Linked DNA regions of Homo sapiens: region 2 is linked to region 1. Evidence: fine-mapped expression QTL. A gene starts in region 1. The other region holds a variant in brackets. All regions are shown on one strand. Distances are from middle to middle. Region 1 holds the start of IL12RB2 (interleukin 12 receptor subunit beta 2). Region 2 overlaps IL12RB2 (interleukin 12 receptor subunit beta 2).

The links.
Region 2: its variant is fine-mapped to the expression of IL12RB2 in blood mononuclear cells (TOPMed, PIP 0.94).

Annotation. Positions count from the first base shown.
Region 1 is chr1:67,300,156-67,313,350 of GRCh38, reverse strand. IL12RB2 (interleukin 12 receptor subunit beta 2) reads right to left here and starts at 5,478. Exons shown (of 17, transcript NM_001374259.2): 1 at 5,384-5,478. RefSeq lists a silencer at 5,426-5,615 and enhancers at 6,076-6,125, 6,156-6,255.
Region 2 is chr1:67,325,439-67,333,438 of GRCh38, reverse strand. It overlaps IL12RB2 (interleukin 12 receptor subunit beta 2), which reads right to left. Exons shown (of 17, transcript NM_001374259.2): 5 at 6,590-6,704; 6 at 5,055-5,239; 7 at 3,710-3,852; 8 at 2,629-2,779. Among named protein-coding and RNA genes, the nearest start is that of IL12RB2, 22 kb to the right of the region's middle. The variant A/G (reference allele first, on the strand shown) is at 3,803.

The sequences.
Region 1 (13,195 bases):
ATCTAGTAAAGCATTTATAATGCCTAATGCTTTACTCTTCAGAAGGTTGACTCATTACTTCTGAGGCCCACCTCCCTCAAAAGAGGATGAAACAACAAAACTCAGCGCACATACAATATGTAACCGTATCTGATGCTATTCCACTATGGTGATGGAAAAGGATAATCAAATCAAGTTACCAATTAGCTAACCTTCTCTTCTTCATGAAATTTCCTGAGTTATGGTCATGAAAATGAACTGTTTTTCATTCCAAGTCTACCATTTGGTGAAAGAATGTAACAAGCCATTACATGGGCAAAAGCCCGTCTATCAGGCCCCATCATCAAACCGGCCCCATTCATAATGTCATGGTAAATGGCTTGAAGGGGAAGGAAAGTAAAATGCATAACCTTTTCTACTTTTTCTTCTTTCTATTCAATAGTCCAAGCACTGTTTACATGAGCCAAATTTAACACACACACTTGTTTTCCTTTTTGTGCAGCTGACGAGGCTGCCTGGAATTTTCTCTAATTTCATTGGTAAGCATTTGCTGTCCTATGGTTCCTCTTTAATTTCACCCAAGTACAGGAACTTTCTTTTCTTGCTCAAATTCAGGAGACTTCCGAATTTTTGTTCCTTTTTTTTTTTTTTTAAATTCAATGTGTTTTCTCCTTTCCCTCTTTATGGCTTTTTTTTTTTCTTAACTTCCTTTATTCTTTTCTCTCTTCTTTTCCTATTTTTTCTGGAATGTTGTTTCTGTCAATTCTGTTTGTCTTTATTTCCATTTTAGATACATCCCATTTGACATAATAGACTCCTGAAATGTTGTGCGTAAACAAATCAGAGTTGAAATGAATTTATCCCACCCCAACCCCTCAATCATCTGTACTGAGAACTATTTTATCCTATAGATTGAACAAGCATTTCTCCAATATAACAGTAAAAAGAAAGAAAGAAACAAGATACGAATGGAGTCTTGGAGAAACAAGACACTTTCAAATAAACTACATGACCTCTTTTCTTTCTTTGAATAGCTCCCATAAGCCTAAAACTTTCATGGCAAGTGTTCAATAAAGCTTCGGAAACTCCAGCCTTCTCTGATTCACTCTCTGTATCCTGCTAGGCCTATCGATAAAATAAGCTGTCTTCTATTGGGAAGGATGATGTGCTGGAAAGAGGCCCCGGGCACCATCCTTGGTTCCTCCATTTCTGCCTCTGTCACCATGGCAGGTAACTTCATACTTCAAAGCCTCCTTTCCTTATTTTAAAAATAGCAATTGACCTTTATTGAGAAAACTAAACCTCTTTCACTAACTTTTCTTCCTTAGTGTATTGGAAAGGTTTTTTCTTTGACATCCTCAATCTGGAAGTCTCTGTTTGTGGACAATGGCAGGAGGTTTATCTTTGGATCTTGGGTATTGCAAAGTCCTGGCCAAGTTTTGCTTCACCTTGTAAGCAACCACTGAGTATTTTCATAAAGTACTACAAGGCATTAACATATTAAGATAATTGCATTGTTTTGAGAATTTTCTAAGAATTTCACAATTATCTTAAGATAATTGGAGGCACACTTGGGAGGGGAATTAAAAAACTAAGGGTAGTGATCACCATGCCACAATGTTTCCCCAGGTTTCTCATATAAATTAAGAATTCAGCTGAAGTCTCTACACTAACAACCCTCCATCTCAGTATCTCCTGATATTTTACTTAATGTGTTGCTTTTCCTGCATATCATTGCAAAATAGAGGTTAATTAAGATTCTAATTTTAACAATCTTTTGTAGGCATTTACTTAGTAGTTTATCACTGTGCAAAGCATATAATTTAGTTGTTAATATTTGGTCAAATACATAAAGTAATGATTAGTATCCTATTCTACAGATAGAAAAATCTGTAAGTTGACCAAGATAACCCAGAAAAACCACACATAAATCCAGAATTGGATTCGAATTACATTCTATGCTTCCCTTCTCCATGAGCACCTGAGAAATAAAAATCCAAGCTTGATGCTCTGTTAGTCTAACTGCTTTCCCTCTTCTATCGGTTTAAATTCTGCAGGAACAGGCTTACCCCTCTCATTTATTCTCAGCATGCCTCAGGGCTCCCATGTTAAACCCACAAAGCTACTACCTCCAAGAGGCATTGAACCATGTTTACGCTCATCACCTCAGTCCAAGCTCCCAGAAGAGCCTCCTGAGCAACTGTAGTAGTAATGAAAAGAGCAGTGGATCCGCCCAGGACACCTAAGTCTTGGCTCGGATAATTCCAGCTATATGGCCTGTGACAAATCACTTGACCACTCAGCCTAAGTTCCTTCATCTGTAAAAAGGGAATACAAACAGCACCTACTGGACGGACGTGGTGACTCACACCTGTAATCCTAGCACTTTGGGAGGCTGAGGCGGGCAGATCACGAGGTCAAGAGATCGAGACCATCCTAACCAACATGGTGAAACTCCGTCTGTACTAAAAATACAAAAATTAGCTGGGCATACTGGTGTGCGCCTGTAATCCCAGCTATTTGGGAGGCTGAGGCAGGAGAATCACCTGAACCCGGGAGGCAGAGGTTGCAGTGAGCCAAGATCGCACCACTGCACTCCAGCCTGGCGACAGCAAGACTCCGTCTCAAAAACAAAAAACAAACAAACAAAAAACCAGCACCTATCTCACAGGATTGTTGGGAGGGTTAAATGACAAGCTGTTAGCAGAGTACCTGGTATATAGCAAGAGCTCAATCAATGTTACCTGCTATTATTATAAGAAAAAAGGCAGTATTACTTCTTTTCAGTGACACTACGAGAATTAAGTTAGATGGCCTTGCTTTTGACTCCTCTCTTTGCCCATTCATCTGATTTAACACTGAAAGACTGATTTGATTAAAACTAGATTCCATACCTCCTAACTTCATGCCACCTATCATTTAAGACATATTAAGTATTCTCAAAATTTTCCCAAACAATTTTGACTTCGTAGGTCATGAACTGGGCCTTACATTTCTTTATATTCACTAAGTCTAAGTCCAGCAAATGCACTGACCATAATGTACATGTTCAATACTTATTTGGAAAACAAAAACAAAAACAAACCACTGTTACACTAGCGAAGAACACTAGAAACTTCCAAGGGCAAAGGAAATTGTATAAGACTTCCTTTGGGATTTGGCTTTTTTTTTTTTTTTTTTTTTTTTTGAGATGAAGTTTCATTCTTGTCGCCCAGGCTGGAGTGCAGTGGCGTGATCTCTGCTCACTGCAACCTCTGCCTCCCGGGTTCAATCGATTCTCCTGTCTCAACCTCCCGAGTAGCTGGGATTACCATGCCACATGGTGTGTGCCACCATGCCCCGCTAATTTTTGTGTTTTCAGTAGAGACAGGGTTTCGCCATGTTGGTCAGGCTAGTCTCAAACTCCTGACCTCAGGTGATCCCCCCACCTCGGCCTCCCAAAGTGCTGGGATTACAGGTATGAGACACCGTGTCCCGCCATTCTGCACAAATTTATTTGTAGGAGTTGACAGCAGTGCTGTGAGCGTAATTACAAAGATGACAAATAATTTGGTAGAGAACAAAGCAGGTGCAGCAATACAAAAATAAGTCCACAACTGAGAAATGATGCCCAATACCTACTGTACTTGGCGGATTCTTCTACCTTAAAAATTACATGTGTGCTTTCGAATTTTTTTTCACACTAAAACTCATTCTAATACAGAAAAGATTCCGTTTGTCAAAGTTTGGGAATTTATCAGCCTATGTAATGAACATGACATTCAAGAGGCATGACATATGGAAAAGAGCATATTGCAAACTTTTCTGGAGGCTGTTGTGCCTAACAGATAGTGTAATGTATTGAGGATTTCACATTAAAATAGGGAAGGAAAGTGTTAGCTCTTAGCCACTAAGGTCCTTTTAGTTATGTGTTGGACAGAGAAATAGGGCACTGTACCATTCCTATTAATGGAAAATGAGAATCCAACGTTTGTTTGTTCAAGTGGAGGTGGTTATAAGGTTCTGAGCCAGAGAGGTGGAAACAGAAGGAACACAGTTTTGAGCCAGAAACCTGTAACTCTCTAACTGTGTGAAACATGTAAGTTTCCACATCTGTAAAATGGGAATACTAATAACAATTTCACCATGTTTTTAAGGAATTAGATAATATATATCCAAAAACCAAATACATAGTAGGTGCTCAACAAAGATGTTCATCTACACAGAGCACACACATAGCAGATTATAACAATTATCTAGAGTTTTAAAAATGGGGAAAAAAGGACTAATTTAGCTTTATTCTTTATATATATATGTGTATGTGTGTGTGTGTATATATATATATATGTATATGTATGTATGTATTTATTTTTAAGACAGAGTCTCGCTCTGTTGCCCAGGTTGGAGTGCAGTGGCCCCATCTTGGCTCACTGTAACCTCTGTCTCCCGGGTTCAAGCAATTCTCCTGCCTCAGTCTCCCGAGTAGCTGGGATTACAGGTGTGCGTCATCATGCCCAGCTAATTTTCGTATTTTTAATAGAGACAGGGTTTCACCATGTTGGCCAGGCTGGTCTTGAACTCCTGACCTCAAGTGATCTGCCCACCTTGGCCTCCCAAAATGCTGGGATTACAGGCGTGAGCCACCGTGCCGGGACCCTGTTCTTAGACAAGGTCTATTTGTATGCTTTTAGGTTACTATTTGTAAGACCTGGATCTAATGGTACAGATACATAATCCCGTACAATGCTGACACTGATATTTAGTGTGTCCTAGGGAGATGAGGAGGGCCTCATAGTTCACAAAGGAAGGGGCATTTCACAGAAGAGAAAACTGAGGCTGGCCAATTTGCTTGCACCAGAGCATCTTGCTAGTAACTGGCCAGGCAGGGACTCGGGGTCAGTCCAGAGGCCACAGGAAAGACTGCTGAGACAAGGTTAGTTCACCCTCATCCGGGACTACGGAAGGCCCCCCCCAATATCTTACTCACATTTGATACATTTTCAAGCAACGGGAGCCACGTCTGTGGGCCTGAACCAAGGCTGGACCCTCAGGGGTGCCCTCTGCCCTTTTCCAGTCGCCGTCCCCTCCCTTCCGTTTGAGCCCACCACTCTGTGCCCCGGCCCAGAGAGTACCTTGGAGGCTCAGTCCGCGCGCTCCCTCCCCTCCATCCAGCCAAACCACCACCCAGTACCTCCAAGTGAACATCTGTGCCCAGGGCGTTAGGACTGTGATGAAGAGAAGCCATTTCGGATCGTATTGGAAGACTTTAAAAATATATATATACATATATATATATAAAGAGAGAAGCCGTCGCCGAAGCCCCCTCGGGAGACGCGAGACACGGAATCCCGGGCACGCAGACACCCCGCTGGTCCGGGATCCTGGGGCTCTCTCTGTCCCCGACCCCGAGTCACTGGTCACTCACCACGTGTCGCCTGCCAGCGGGCGCGGTCCCGGGCCTGCGGGGACCGGGTGGCCCCGGTGCTCTGGGCCGCACGTGTCGCGCTCTCCGCGCTCTCTGCCGGCGCTCGGGCGTTCCCGGTGCCAGCGCCCGCCCTCCCGCCTCCGCCTCCCGCCTCTGCGCCACCAACTCCGGGGTGGGCGCGGGGAGCTGGCGGCGAGTGAGGATCGGGCCGGGGCGGGGGTCGGGGCTGGGCGGTGGCCGCAGGGCGGAGAGGACTCGCTTCTCAGTTCAGCTCTGGAAGCGCAGCCGGGCGGGCGCCCGTGGTTTCCACCCCGCGGGTCGAAGCGGGCTCGGGTGGGATTCTGCCACCTGTGGGCTCTGCTGTGTCGCCTTGAGCAAGATAATTCTCTCTCCACCGTCAGTTTCCCCTCATATAAAATGCGGATAATAAAGCCTGTCTCATAAGACGGAGCAAGGGTTGACCGAGGTGAGGTGCGTTTATGCACCAAGATATGATAGGCGCGATAAAATCGTGTGCTCAGCGTTCACAGCCATAGAGACGTGGCACTTTGTTGACAGCCATCAGGGAACTTTCCTCGCAGATGTCCTTTCTCTGTGCTCTGCACCGCCCAGCTCTTACCACACCTGAGCGCCGAGGCCTCCCAAGTGGGCTGTGCACAAGACCGCCCACTGGAGTGCGGGCAGAACATACTGGAACTTCCATTTGTATTTGCTGTCTAAAAAATGAGAAAAAAGTTAAACTTGAACAGATGGCGTGTCACCACTCCCGTATAGGTCCCGTGTTATAAGTGGTGTTCTCAGGCAAGAGGGAAAACTGCCCAGAGTACAGAGGGGTCGGCAGCTCTGCATAATATTCATGACATAATATTTATGACAATATTACTTAGAAAAAAACTGTATTTAAACCTGTAAAGACAGACTCTCACTCTGTTACCCAGGCTGGTCTCAAACTTCTGGCCTCAAGCAATCCTCCCGCCTTGGCTTCCCAAAGTGCAGGGAATACAGGCCTGAGCCTCTGCACCCGTCAGCTTAGATTTCTTTAAATCTAAGACTTCCTTAATTATAAGATATACCATTATTTATGCGCTAGTAAGAAATAAAAAGAACTGCCAGGTAAACAATAACAATGCTTTCTCAACATTTAGAATCTTTTAAACTAAAATTTTATTTAGTTTAGAGATTTTATTTAGATATCTCTAAATAAAATTTAGATTTTAAACATATGTATATTATCTATCGAATTTTTTTTTAAGTCCCCCCCCCTCCCCCACCCCGTTGTCTCTGGAGTTTTCTTCTAGTCCACTGAGCCCAGTACAGGTTTGCTGAGCCCGCAGAAGTGGACAACTGCATACCACGCTTCTGGGCATTACCTTAAAACCGCTCTCAATGTTTGAGATGTTAAATATGAAAAATGTACATCTTGGAATCAACAATGTACAGTAGATTGTCTTTATGGGATTGTGACATACTGTAGTTTACATGCTTTAGTAATTTATCTACATGAATAATTTTACTAAAATCTTTTAAATCGTAGAATCTAGAATCTTAATATTACTTTGTAATGAGATGATACATAATTGTAGAAATCATTTGTAACAAAGATTTTAAAAGTTGTCTTAAAGTGAGTTATTTTCTTTATTTTTACAAAAAAACCCCAAATATCCTAAATTTGCTGATCTTTTCTGTATTGATATATGGCTCTCAGTACATGTTATCTAATAGATCTTTTTGAAGAACAAAAAACCCCAGAGGTTTATTTGTTGTTTCTTCAAGGTAATTTTCACACCAAGTGATACGTTGTTATGAAGAGACGATTTGAAAACAAATATTTCGAAGTGTTCCCATTATTGTGTGTTTTTCTTACTGAAGATTTTATGATTGTCATCACAGAAAATGCTTTTAAAAACTCGGAAACAATTTGCTATTTTGTTTCAATCTTTTAATTGAGCAGTTCAGTGGATTTTAAATCCATTTGTTAAAAAATATAAAAATGCAGCAGCTTCTCATTACTTTAAAAACTGATTGATATCAAGAATAAGATTATGATAGCCAAATGTTATAACAATCTTGCATAATTCATGGATTTTTCAACACTTTTTAGTGAGAAGGAAGGCTTTTAGTTTTGTTAATAAATCAATAATTTCAAAAATGCATTTTACTCTATCTCATTTAAAAATTTAATTTATATATTTGTGTGTGCATATGTGTGTGTGTGTATATACACACATATAAATATACATATGTTTTTCTGTTTTTTTTTTTTTGAAACAGCGTCTCACTCTGTTGCCCCGGCTAGAGTACAGTGGCACAATTTCAGCTCACTGCAACCTCCACCTCCCGGGTTCAAGTGATTCTCCTGCCTCAGCCTCCTGAGTAGCTGGGACTACAGGCACGCGCCACCATGCCCGGCTAATTTTTGTATTTATAGTAGAGATGGGGTTTCACCATATTGGCCAGGCTGGTCTCAAACTCCTGACCTCGTGATCTGCCCACCTCAGCCTCCCAAAGTGCTGGGATTACAGGCGTGAGCCACCGCGCCCGGCATACATATGTTTTTCAAGGAAATAAAAAAACAACCAAACATATGTTGGGGATGTTTCTCAAAAATGCTTTTTTTTTTTTTCTGAAGGAGTATACCATCTAAAATGTTGAAAGACCACTGCTCTATTAACTTCTAATGGCAGCATCTTACAAAATTGCAGAAGTCAGACACAAAATGGTGTCTCAAATGCATCTAAGGCATATTCTTTGAGGGAACAGATGAGAGCTGTTGAGGAAAGAACTTGAATCTGGTTGTTAAGCAAGCACAACAAATTATGAGAATACAGTAAGATGCAGGTAGCAATGATAATCTTCTTTATTCTCTTCTTTTCCCTAGATGCAAGAAAAAAAAAGTCAGAAGATGACAACTCTTACATAAGTATTATTTGAGAAATTATCATGCTCTAGGTCCATCAGTATATTGTTTAACTTAGACTTACATTATCAAGTGAAGACTTGCACTGATTGCCATTGATAACAGTGGTTCTCTTATCCTGCATGCTCCCTGGATTATAAACTCTATGCACGCAAGGATCCCTCATCTTCAGCATCTGGCACACTGAGTGGTACAGGGCAGGTAGTCAATAAGTATTTACTGAGTTGAACTGACTTGTTCTGGAGAGATCCCATTCTTTTTGGCCAGTTCAACGGGATTGTAGGTGTTGTTCAATCTTCACACTTTTCGACAGTTAAAAATTAGTTGGAAAATTAAATATAATTTTTCTTAGCAAGTCGGTAACCTTTCTGTATGAAATCACCATCTGTAGAGGCCTTTCTATTTCCCCACTTCTTTTTTCTGCCTTCTCCTCCTATTAATATCTGGGAGTTTCACTAATACAGGCATGGCTTTTGTCAGTGGTTGCCTGTCTAGTTAGAGAAAAAAACAAAAACAAAAATAACAATGAAAACAAAAATAACAACAAAGACAAACTTGCTTCTGTGCTTTCTAAAGAATAAACCCTAGATGGTAGACGATGCCTGATGAAGCAAGAGCCTAATATACAACCCAAAATGTCAACTGTGATTGTTAATGTAATCATTTTTAAGTCTATGGGTATGATATGGTCTTCTGTGTAGCTGTTAGGTAAATGAATGTACTTGTAAATCAAAAGCTCAATTAAGTGGATAACCACAGTGACAGTGACAAAGTCTTTTCTAGGAAATACTAGTTCAGTTTCCATTTCTGGTATAGTTCCATTACTTTAAATGTCTAATTTGGTTCATTGCTGATACCAAACACCCTGAAAATACGTAATCACACTATTCTATGAATAACTGAGATGTGCTTTTCCTAAAGTGTCACTTGTCAGGATAAATACTAGGAGGTGGTTGCTAACATAGTCATTTAGGGCATCAAATGAATGCTGGCACTCGTTAAACTTGGTAAGACGGTTTTAACATCATTTTAAACTTTTACTTATAATGAGAAAACTCAGAATCTAAGATTAACTGTTCAACCTTAACTGCTTCATTTTGTAAAAGTTTCATTTCTAAAAGTTATTACTTTGTTAGTTTTACTCATCTCTCCAAAGTATTAAACTTATAGGACAGCAACATAACTCCTGAATATATTTGTAGTGTTATGTATTGAAAAAGTTTATATAAAATTAAAATAGTGCAATACCAGATTCTCAGATTATGAATAATCTCCATAATTCTTAAAATGTAGACTTATACCTTCTCCACAACTGACATTTAACAAGCACAAACATTGTTTATAGAGGAACAAACTGGCCAGGCTCAGTGGCTCATACATATAATCTCAGCATTTTGGGAGGCTGAAGCAGGTGGATCACCTGAGGTCAGGAGTTCAAGACCAGCCTGGCCAAAATGGAGAAATCCCATCTCTGTTGAACATACAAAACTTAGCCAGGCATGGTGGCACTCACCTGTAATCCCAGCTACTCAGGAGGCTGAGGCAGGAGAATGGCTTGAACCCGGGAGTCAGAGGTTGCAGTGAGCCAAGATGGCACCATTGCACTCCAGCCTGGGCAACAGAGCAAGACTCTGTCCAAAAAAAAAAAAAAAAAAGATGAACAAACCACATGGAAATTGCCATGTCTTGGAGAGCAGCAGTGCGTTTTTGAGAGGTCTTTAGATTGCTGGATGCCTTGTTAAATGAACATAAAGGTTAAAGAGTAAAGTGAGACATGAGGTAAATTTAAAGCTGTGATAGCTGCAGGGTCCTACACAACATAAACTTTATTCACAAACTGGCTCTGCTATTCTTAGCAGCTAAATCTAAACATATGTTACAGGATTCACAGATTCCATCATGTCATGGCTGGTTACCTGATCATCAGAGCCAGAACTTTTGGTGGTGCAAAACTTTGGCAAGTTCTTATAAAAAGGAGAGTGATTTGCATAAAAGGCAAATTTCTCACAAACATTCCCACATAAAACCACACATATGTTCCTCATTTTTGTTGTCGTTGTTGTTTGTTTGTTTTTGGTTTGTTGTAGAGTACATCAACAGAAGCCCTATGAGAAGTACTCTGAAATGTGGATGTATAATCATTAAGATTCTTTTCTACATTCCACTCTTCTGGCTTCAAATGTCCTTTTTTTCCATGCTTCTCATACATAGAAAATACTCTGATTTCCCAAATGAGACAACCCAAAGTCCTGTCCAGTCATGGCATCCAGCTGAGATCCAAGCTCTCTGAAAAATGAGCAGTGGTGGCTACCTAGTGAGATATGCCTCCTCTGGGTCCACAGCCTATAAACAAACAAGTAAAAAACCCAGGTTACCTGCACCTCCCACCTCGCCCTGCCCCGCTCCAAGGATATAAAATGGTGGAACAGGGACAATGAATGCTCAGCTTAGGAAACAGAGAAGCATGTGACACACCAGAAGTCACTGGTCCAAAGTACCACTGTCTTCAGTGGTGAATGCATTAGTTTTTTTATTTTGGCCTGTAGGACCTCTGCTAAAGAGGCAGGAAGAATCTCAATTAAGTATCCTTTTCTACAAATCAAACACTGCAGAGTAGTATCAAATGTTAATAATATTTCCTTTCCCCTCCAGTCTCTCCTTCCCAAATAATAGTTTTACGAGAATCTTTCCACATTTTTCTTCATGCCTTTATAGACGTATAAAAGCGTTTTAGGTTTTTCTTTTATATTTAAGCCATACAGAAAATATATTCTAGGTTTAAACAAATTGAGCTATTCTATTTCCCTATCTGTCCATCCATCTATCTTTCGTTTTCCTTTTACCACATGACACAAACTTCATTCCATAATGCACGTAGTAGCGCTCTCATTTTTTTTCTTTTTTCCTCTCTCTCTTTTTTTTTTTTTTTTTTTTTTTTTAGACAGAGTCTCACTCTGTTGCCCAGGCTGGAGTGCAGTGGCACGATCTCAGCTCACTGCAGCCTCCGCCTCCTGGGTTCAAATGATTCTCCTGCCTCAGCTCTCAAGTAGCTGGGACTACAGGCATGTGCCACCACACCCTGCTAATTTTTGTATTTTGTATTTTTAGTAGAGCCTCGGCCTCCCAAAAGTGCTGGGATTACAGGCATGAGCCACCGTGCCTGGCCTCATTTTTTTTTTCAATAGCTACAAGTATTCCATACCATGCATGTACTAAGATTTAGTCAACCATTCTCTTATTTACAGGTCTTCAGGTTTCTAATTCCCACCTGCCCCCTTGTCTCCCCCAAAATGCAGCATATTCACCAAAATAAAAATATTCTTACACATATACTTGTACAAATATATGGTGCTTTTATTTGTGGGTAACATAATCTCACATGTAGCTTGTTGAATCAAAGGATATGAGCTTTTTCTCTTTAATGGATTATGCCACATTACTATCCAAATTATAGTAATTCATACTTCCACTAGCATGCCACATTATCACTAATAGTGAATGCTATAAATCTTCTGTAATTATCAATCTATCAATCTAACATGTAAAAAATGATATTTCATTGCCTTACACTGTGTATCTTTGACTGCAAACATCTTCTCATATGTCTGATAGTTTAAAAATATGTATTATTATTCATCTATCACAGTCTACCTTCAAATAGTAGGCCAGTTTATGTATAATACAAAAACTTTACAACAGTATGCTTCTATCCTTATATCTTTTGTACTATTTGATTGTACATTTTACTTTCATTTATGTTTTAAGCCCCATGATACATTATTACTATTTTTGCTTTACTTAGTTATCTTTTAAAAAATTAAAAAATATAAAACCCAAAATTTTCTATATTTCCTCATATATTTACAATTGCAAGTGCTATTTATTCCTTTGTATAGATCAAAGTTTCCAGCCGGTATCATTTCCCTTCAGCCTAAAGAACTTATTTTAATATTTCCTATAGGACAGGTCTGCTCTTGACAAACTTTCTTAGCTTTTGTGTTCTTAAAAATTGTTTTATTTTGCCTTCATTTTTGAAGAATTTTTTTTACTGTATGTAAAATTCTAGGTTTACTTCTCCTCCTCCCAGCATATTAAACATATTATTTCATAGTTTTCTGGCTTGCATCGTTTCTGTTGAGAAGTCAGTGTTAAGTCTAATCTTGCATTCCTGTAATTTTTTTTCTCTTAATGCCTTTCAGATCTCCTTATAATGGACTTTCAACTATTATATTATGATGTGCCTTGGTGTGGTTTCCTTTGTGTTTATTCTGCTTAGTATTTATTGAGCTTCTTGGATCTGTGGTTTTGTAGTTTTTGCCAAATTTGGAAAACTTTTCAGATTTATTTCTTCAGTTGTTTCTTCTGCCTACCATCGCTAGATTCTAATTACACAATTTTGGTGTGTTTGATACTGTGCTACAGGTCACTGAGGCTCTATTCACTTTTTTTTCAGTCCTTTTTTTCTCTGCTTCAGTTTGCTGATTGCTATATCTCCAAGTTCATTGCTTTTTCTTCTGCAGTGTCAAATCTGTGAAATCCATCCAATTAGTTTTTTACATAAGTAAGATATTAAAGTATTTTTCAGCTCTGGAAATTCCATTTATTTTTTATAGTTTCAGTTTCTCTTATTATTAGTTTTTCTCTTTAAATCCTTGAGATTTTTATAATAGTTGTAAAATCCTTGTCTGCTATTTCTGTTATCTCTGTTGTTTCTGGGTCTGTTTCTATTGCTGACTTTTCTCCTAGTTATGAGTCTTATTATTTGTGCTTCTTTGCCCATCTAGTAGCTTTTTTCTACTGAACCCTTGAGATTGTGAATGTTGCATGACCTGCAAAGCCTAAGATATTTGTTATCTGGCCCTTTAAAGAAAAGTTGCCGCGCCCTGCCCTAGATG
Region 2 (8,000 bases), 23 kb before region 1:
GTAGAGTCATTCACAGTTTTAGAGAGTACCTAAAAAAAAAAAAAAAAAAGCTTACTATTAATTTTTTTTAAATGCCAAGTTACATATGAGTACACATTGAAAGGGTTAAAAGGAAGACGTGTTAAAAAAAATTCACACCTTTTACGTTTACATCAGTTGGTGTTTCATAAAGAAACTGATGACAGAAACAGCGGGTAAGGGGTGAAAACCAAGCAGCCTAGAGTAAGAGAAAAAAGACCTACAACAACCCACAGAAAAATCAAACATAGAAAAGGGAGATTCAGAGACAGAAAGGAAGCCAACAGAGCTTGGTAAAGGTGGTGTATCTCAGAGTATGGGTTTCTCTCTTTATGAATACCTTCAGTGACTGAATAAGCCAGCTTCCTAGGTTCAATTCATAATCATCCATGAGTTCATAACCATAATGAGTTGCTATACTCATTGTTATGATGGTGGTTTATTTTATAGGAAATAAGAAAGTTACTGTGCTGCCTTGAAGGAATTTTAATTCAAAAGACAAACACTTTTTAAAAAAGAAAAGAAAAACCTTTTCACACATCTCTAACTAGGTCATTATCATATGTGAGTAAGAATGACAAGAATTCACAAGCCCAGAGTTTCCCTAGTTTATAGTTTAGCTTAATGTGATATAACTTAAATATTTTTCAGACTACTTACTACCTTGAACTTGGATATAAAATATAGCCCATTTTCAGAAGTTTTATCTGTACCACATATATAAACAAAATCTAATTCATGAGATAGTCTTTAAAAAAATTACTTTGACTATATATAATAAAACGATATTATGAGTAAGCTCTGGATTATAAAAGTAACAACCAGAGGGCAAGTGGTTCAACATTAAGAGATTTTATTATAAAATGAGTGGTAATAAATTATCATTTGTTGGATAAATTCACTTTTAGACAATTTTTAAAATATATTCTGTAATCCCAGCACTTTGGGAGGCCGAGGCAGGTGGATCACCTGAGGTCAAGAGTTCGAGACCAGCCTGGCCAACATGGTGAAACCTGTCTCTACTGAAAATAACAAAAATTAGCCGGGCATGGTGGCGCATGCATGTAATCCCTGCTACTTGGGAGGCTGAGGCAGGAGAATCACTGGAACACAGGAGGCAGAGGTTGCACTGAGCTGAGATTGTGCCACTGCACTCCAGCCTGGGTGACAGAGCAAGACTCTGTCTCAAAAAAAAAAAAAAATGCAATTAATACAAGAAGTAAGGAAGAATATAAGATTATTCTATGAATCATATATTAGGTATTATATTCTGCTAAAGGCCCTTCCGTTCCTTGAATGTCATTGATGTATGATTGCTAAGGATCATCAGTTATCAAAAGCCATTAGTAGCTCACAGAAAATAAATGCAACTTAATTATGAGGCTAGTTTACATGCACACATATCCATAAATTTCACAAATAAGAATTTAGATTTTGCACGTTAATGTTACAAAAGCTCCAGATAATGAACAATGGATTATATGCCAAAAAGTTTTTCTCTGAGTCAAATTTATATAAATTATGAAAGACTCTCTACTATATCACTAAATGAGTGCATTTATTTATTTATTTATTTATTTATGAGATGCAGTCTCGATCTGTTGCCCAGGCTGGATTGCAGTGGCACAATCTTGGCTCATTGCAACCTTTGCCTCCTGGGTTCAAGTGATTCTCCTGCCTTAGCCTCCCGAATGGCTGGGATTACAGGCACGCACCACGATGCTTGGCTAATTTCTTGTCTTTTTGGTAGAGATGGGATTTCACCATGCTGGCCAGGCTGGTCTCGAACTCCTGACCTCGTGATCTGCCCACCTCAGCCTCCCAATGTGCTGGGATTACAGGCCTGAGCGACCATGCCGGCCTAAATGAGTGCTTTTAAAAACTAATATTCAGATGGCTATTTCTTGTGTCTCCAAAGATTTAATATTGGCATAAAGTTTACATAGGCATTTTTGCTTCAATAAAATATTTTCTTATACTTCAATAACATTCCCTTCCCAATAATTACTAAAAAAGAAAAATTCATCAGACTGAAAAACACATTTGATATCCTTTTCATAGTTATGGGTGGCCAGGTGGTTCTCATTTGTGCAGTAAATATCAAAGGCTTGAAGTACAGTGTTATAATATTTGGACAAGAGAGGATTGCTGGATGCTAAATTTTATTTTGAAATATGTGTCTCCAGAGCCTACTTTCTTTCAAGCTTTCCATATGGCTTATTGAGCCACATTACTTTTCATAGAATCAAAAATATAAAACATATGAAGCTTTAACAAGAAATGAGATTAATTACTGGTTATAGCTCTGTGAAATAAGTTACTGAGATAGTAAGAGAGATAAGTTATAACCAAGCATTATAACCAACATGACTGATAGCAAACAGGAGTAGAACTTACCCAATGTTAAAAATTTCCTTGCAACACAAACATATTTCCTTGAACAGTTTCAGCACTTAAGTTAATATAAAAATTAACTTGTTAACTAATGCAGTCATGCTTTTTGATTCAGCACCAGTAGTTTAAAGATTCTATTCCAAGGAAATCATTACATCTTCCCCCCTCTCTCCCCTTTATTGCTCCCCGATAGGTATGTATATTTTGGACATATACCTTCTTCTGGTGTTTGTGCTCTCAATGATTCACTCCAATCACTCCAACTTCCCTTATAAAGATGTAGCTTAGAGGAAATCTGAAATTCATATTCTGTAAATGGTTTCAGATCCAGCAAATCATGTCTTCCTTTGGCCTTTGTAACATTAACCTTGAAACAGACATTTTTTTAAAGTGCCTATTAATACTAGATTGCTAATTTAAGGAATTTTAACATAAAATGAAAAAAAAAAAACCCAGGCTATTTGATCTTATTTGTTTTTCAGACCTACCATTAAATGAGAAGAAATATCAGTGACTGTCTTACCGAATAGATATGATATTAATCTGAAATGATAGCATCTCATTAAAAATAAAACAAAATCTCTGGGTACTAAGAACCCATCTATGTAGGTTCTCGAGGGGAATCCTGAAACCAGCTGAAAAATAAGATTGAAAACTACAAAGTTTCTACACTAGAGATTATTTTTTATTTGATTACAATTAGGATGTGATGAATGTTTTAACACAAACATAGCACTGGCTTTTTTTTTTTTTAAAAAAACCCTTTAATTAGTTATACTCTCTTGAATATCAGCTATCTGTGGGACTGATCCTTTGTTATTATAAGCCATTGAATTTTACAACAATCCCGGAAAGAATCATAATCCTATACCTTTTATTTTAAAACATGCAATGCCTAATATTATATTAAATTGTAGACCTTTTCTTTGGAATATTAAATTCTATATAACTCTCTGTGGACATTTCTTAATATTTCTCTTTTCAATATCTTTTTTAAATGCTAAAAAATAATAACAGGACAGGGTAAATAATAAGGAGAAATGAATCCTCTGTTAGAAATAAACTATAGAAAATTAATATTGGTTTACAAAAGCTTTAAAAATTTCAGAATCAGAGATCAAAATTCAAGATATTTCTTAATCAACAGAGGCATACATGACTTTCTGATAATTCTCTCGTGTGTACTTTTGGGATAAATATTCTTAAACTCTATTTTTTGCTGTATGAAAAGACAGAGGTCTGCGCAGCAATATTAAGAATGCTTCAGTGTTTTTTCCTTCACTCTAAAGATAATTACCATATTCCAGAGCCTGCTGTTACTGGGCCGATATCTGAGTCGATTAAGCAGTACCAGTCCCTCATCTCTCCAATAAAGGGTACATCTGCTCAC[A/G]GAAGCCTTTTGAAATTTGATTCTAATGTCCCACGGAGGAAGAGGCCTCACTAGTAACCAGGACAAACAAAAAAGTGTGGTTCAGGATCTGTGATCAGCAATTGTCTTATGTACTGGCATGAGCTATAAAGAGTTTGACAAAACTCAGTTCTGAGATGCACAACCATCAAATTTGGTAAAATATACAAGAGAAAAGTTCCAGGCTTTAAGAAAGAACTTTTTTAAAAGCTGGATTCACTTCTGAATCTTTAAAATAATCCCCCTTAATCAAATCTCATTTTCACCAAATAACTACTACCAACATTAGTGGTAAGTTTCAACTACACTTAGTCCAGTGGTTTTTCAAAAACCAATGTGCCAAACCCAAGAGTTCCAATGACTGAGAAGCCAGAGACGGCTAGTGATGACTGCCTCAGGAGGAGAAGAAATGTTCGTAGGAAAATTCATAGCAAAGGGACAGAGGAAAAGAACAAGGGGGCGAGAAGGTAGCCTAGAGATGAACGGTCTATGAAAGAAATGGGAGGAAGCCTGAGAAGAAATATGGTGGAAAAGTGTATAGTAAATGCCAATGATCAGACTCATCGTTAGCAATATGTATGCAGAGAAGTGCCATGGAAAGAGAGGCGAGAAGCACATAGTGTGAGGTTGGAACTTCAGGCAGCCCAGTTCTGCCTGGATGGTCAGAACTTGGAATGCTTGAGATTGGCCTCTGATTCAACTGGACCGATTACATTTGCTCAGAAATGTACTGGCTCACTCCAGGGATGGAGGTGAGTATTCTCAGAGCAAGATGCATCTGTGACTTGAGAAATTTTATTTATAGTTTGTACCTCGCTGCTCTAGCCTAGCAGGCCCACATGTAGCCTATCTCACAACAATGGGAGTAGCCATGGGGGCGAAAGGACACCTCCTCCAAGAAGGGCTTGCACTGAGCATCTTGAATGACCTCACAGGACCCTCTCCTCAGTCAGGTGGTATCATTAGTAGCTGGTTCTTTCATGGGATTTGAATCCAGGGGCTAATTTCTTCAATAGAGAGAATAATGTTGAACATCCCACTTTGTATAGCCATCTTTAGATAGCTCAGAATAATGCACCCTTTTACTTGCATCAAAGTAACTTCTATCTTTTGCTTATGCCTGTTGGCCAATTTCCATCAATCTCTGTCTTTCTTGAAACAACCATATAAAAAAGATTTGAGTGATTTTAAAAATAATTATAAAGTACCAATGAAACAGTGAAATAAAATGTACCTATGTCCAAGAATGTGAATGTGGATGGAAGTGAAGAGGAGCTTCCAAGACTATTGACAGCAGTAACCTTGGCTGTGAAATTGGATTCAGGTGATTCAGGGGTGAGGTTGATTCCAAAGTCCAAATAGTCACAATAAATGTCTTTACATTGCTTCTGCCAGGTTAAATTTTTTGGTCCACTTAGCCTGTAAACAAAACACAACCACGTGTAGCAACATGTTTTATGTGCTACTTTCTACTTACAGTAGAAAAGAACAAAATGTTTAAATATTTAGAATTCTAGACAATTTTTAAAGGTCAATCTTATGACTAGGGGATACACCCCGGGAATATTTGTACTATATGGTCATGTAAGACTATACTTCACCCAACTCCCTTTTTTGGTAGAACTGAGATGTTCTTCCACATTCATGTAGATAGGTAACCAAGCCTACGCTGCTGAAATTCCCCAAACCCTGCTTGTCATCTTGGCTCCCCAGGGCAGTTCCAAACATTATCCTAAGCACTGTGGCCACCTTGACATCTGTGGCACAGAATTGTCAGTTCCTAGTACAGCAGTGGCCAGAGTAGAATCCTGGGCTATTTTACCCTAATACTGAGACCCGCGTGTCAATAGATGTTTCCTTTAGGTTAGAAAAAGTAAATGTACTACAGAACCCCTCCTTTCCTCCATCTCCTCCTCACTCAGGAATAGCACAAATCAGCTGGATCTTTAATGGGATCATGAAATCTACTTCAAGGAACAGAATCTCCCAGACTCTCTCTTCTCATGGACTCTTAGGTCAGCCAATGGTGCTTTAAAAAGAAACTTATCCAAGCGAATGGGAAACTACCACAAGGAAGAGTTTATTTATGTATCATGACCCCAAGAGCCTACAGCTGCAGAAAAGAGAAGCGATCTTATGCAGCCAGTTTAACCCTACTAGAGTGGGAAAGAACAGCTATAACTTGGATCTTGGATGCACTGAAGAGAACTCTGAGTTAGAACTCAGACCCAAGACATTCGGTCTCTCATACTGTAGATGAATGAACCAGTTTTAACTATAAACATAGAAACTCTTTAAAAAGTATCTAATTGTCTAGAAGTATCTATTGCTTCTCCTTTCTGGTAAAAATAAAACAGATAGGCCGGGCACCGTGGCTCACACCTGTAATCCCAGCACTTTGGGAGGCTGAGGCGGGTGGATCACGAGGTCAAGAGATCGAGACCATCCTGGCCAACATGGTGAAACCCCGTCTCTGCTAAAAATACAAAAATTAGCTGGGCGTGGTGGTGGGTGCCTGTAATCCCAGCCACTCAGGAGGCTGAGGCAGGAGAATCACTTGAACCCAGGAAGCAGAGGTTGCAGTGAGCCGAGATTGCGCCACTGCACTCTAGCCTGGTGACAGAGTGAGATTCCGTCTCAAAATAAATAAATAAATAAATAAATAAATAAATAAAATAAAATAAAAATAAATAAAGAAAACAGATATTTCTAAATGTCATTTAAGAGAAGATCTACAAAACAGCTGCAAAAATACAGCCTCTCACTCACTGTAGAGTATACTCAGTGTATAAGTGGGTGTCTCGTCCTCTTTCCCAGGTGCAGGCCACAGTCCCCTGTTCTCCCTTCTGTATGCAGGATAAATTTTGAGGCTGTTCTGGAGCAACTTTAAAAAGAAAAGACAAAACCTTATATATCACACAGGTGATATTTCAACCGAATTGTTATTATCTGCCATCAACATGACAATACGTCCCCCACATGCCGTAAACCCAGGTAAACTAGAAGCTATTTTAGATTCCATTCAAGTCCCAGTTTGCCATTAAGGTGTAAATTTCTCCTAGAAACAGTAATAATAGTAGTGAATATGGATCAAATACTATATGCCTAGCCCAGTGCTATGTGCAGTTTTTCTGAATTAGACAGCGTAGCACCCCATGAGGTAGATACTATTATTATATTTTTTTTCAGAGAGGAAACTGAGAGAGGTGAAATATCTGGCCCAAGATCATAAAATTATGAAGTGGCAGATTCAAGGCTCCAGCTCAGCTGTAACTCAAGTCCAAGCCTTTTACTCCATATTCTACCATTTTCCCTGACAGGTGAACATCCAGTGCTAGCTCCATTACCCCTGGTAATAATAAATTAATTTCTTTTAGAGTGATGCCCATTCAAATATTAGAAACCTTTAAAAATGAGAGACTTATTTGCTTTCTTCACCTGATATTTGCTGTCAAGACACTTACACCCAGTTGCCTCAGTCATGTCCTCCCGGGCTATACCATCTAAATCTAATTTCTGCATTGTCTCTTGGAGCACTTTATGGACATTTATAAATTAATTCTTTTGTGTACATAGGCATTGAGTACCTCCCACGAGCCAAGCACAGTGCTAGATGTGGAAATACAAAGATGTACAAAGCAAGCATGGTCCCTTCTATTGTAAGGTGTGTATTTTTAAATAAAGCTATTTTATGGTGAAAGGACCCAAACTAGGAATTTTTTGGACAAAATGGAGGTAAGAGAAATACTCAGCTATTCAGTCATCCCATTTTACCCTAATACCCAGACCCACGTGTAGATACATATTTCCTTTAGGTTAGATAAAATGAGTATACTACAGAAGTCCTAGCTATTGTCTACACTGAAAAAATCTGTTATTGATTAAATAAATATCTTTTTTGTCCTTAGCATCCACCATAGACATAGGCACAGGAATGCCCACTGTGTGACCTTGGACAAGTCAGAGCTTCAGTTGAATCTATAAAATGGGTATAATGATATCTAGCTCATATAGTTTTAATAGAATAATAAACTTTTCCTTTAAAAAAGTCTCTTTTCGCTGGATGCGGTGGCTCACGCCTGTAATCCCAACAATTTGGGAGGCTGAGGTGGGCAGATCACTTGAAGTTAGGAGTTTGAGACTAGCTTGGCCAACATGGTGAAACCTCTTCTTTACTTAA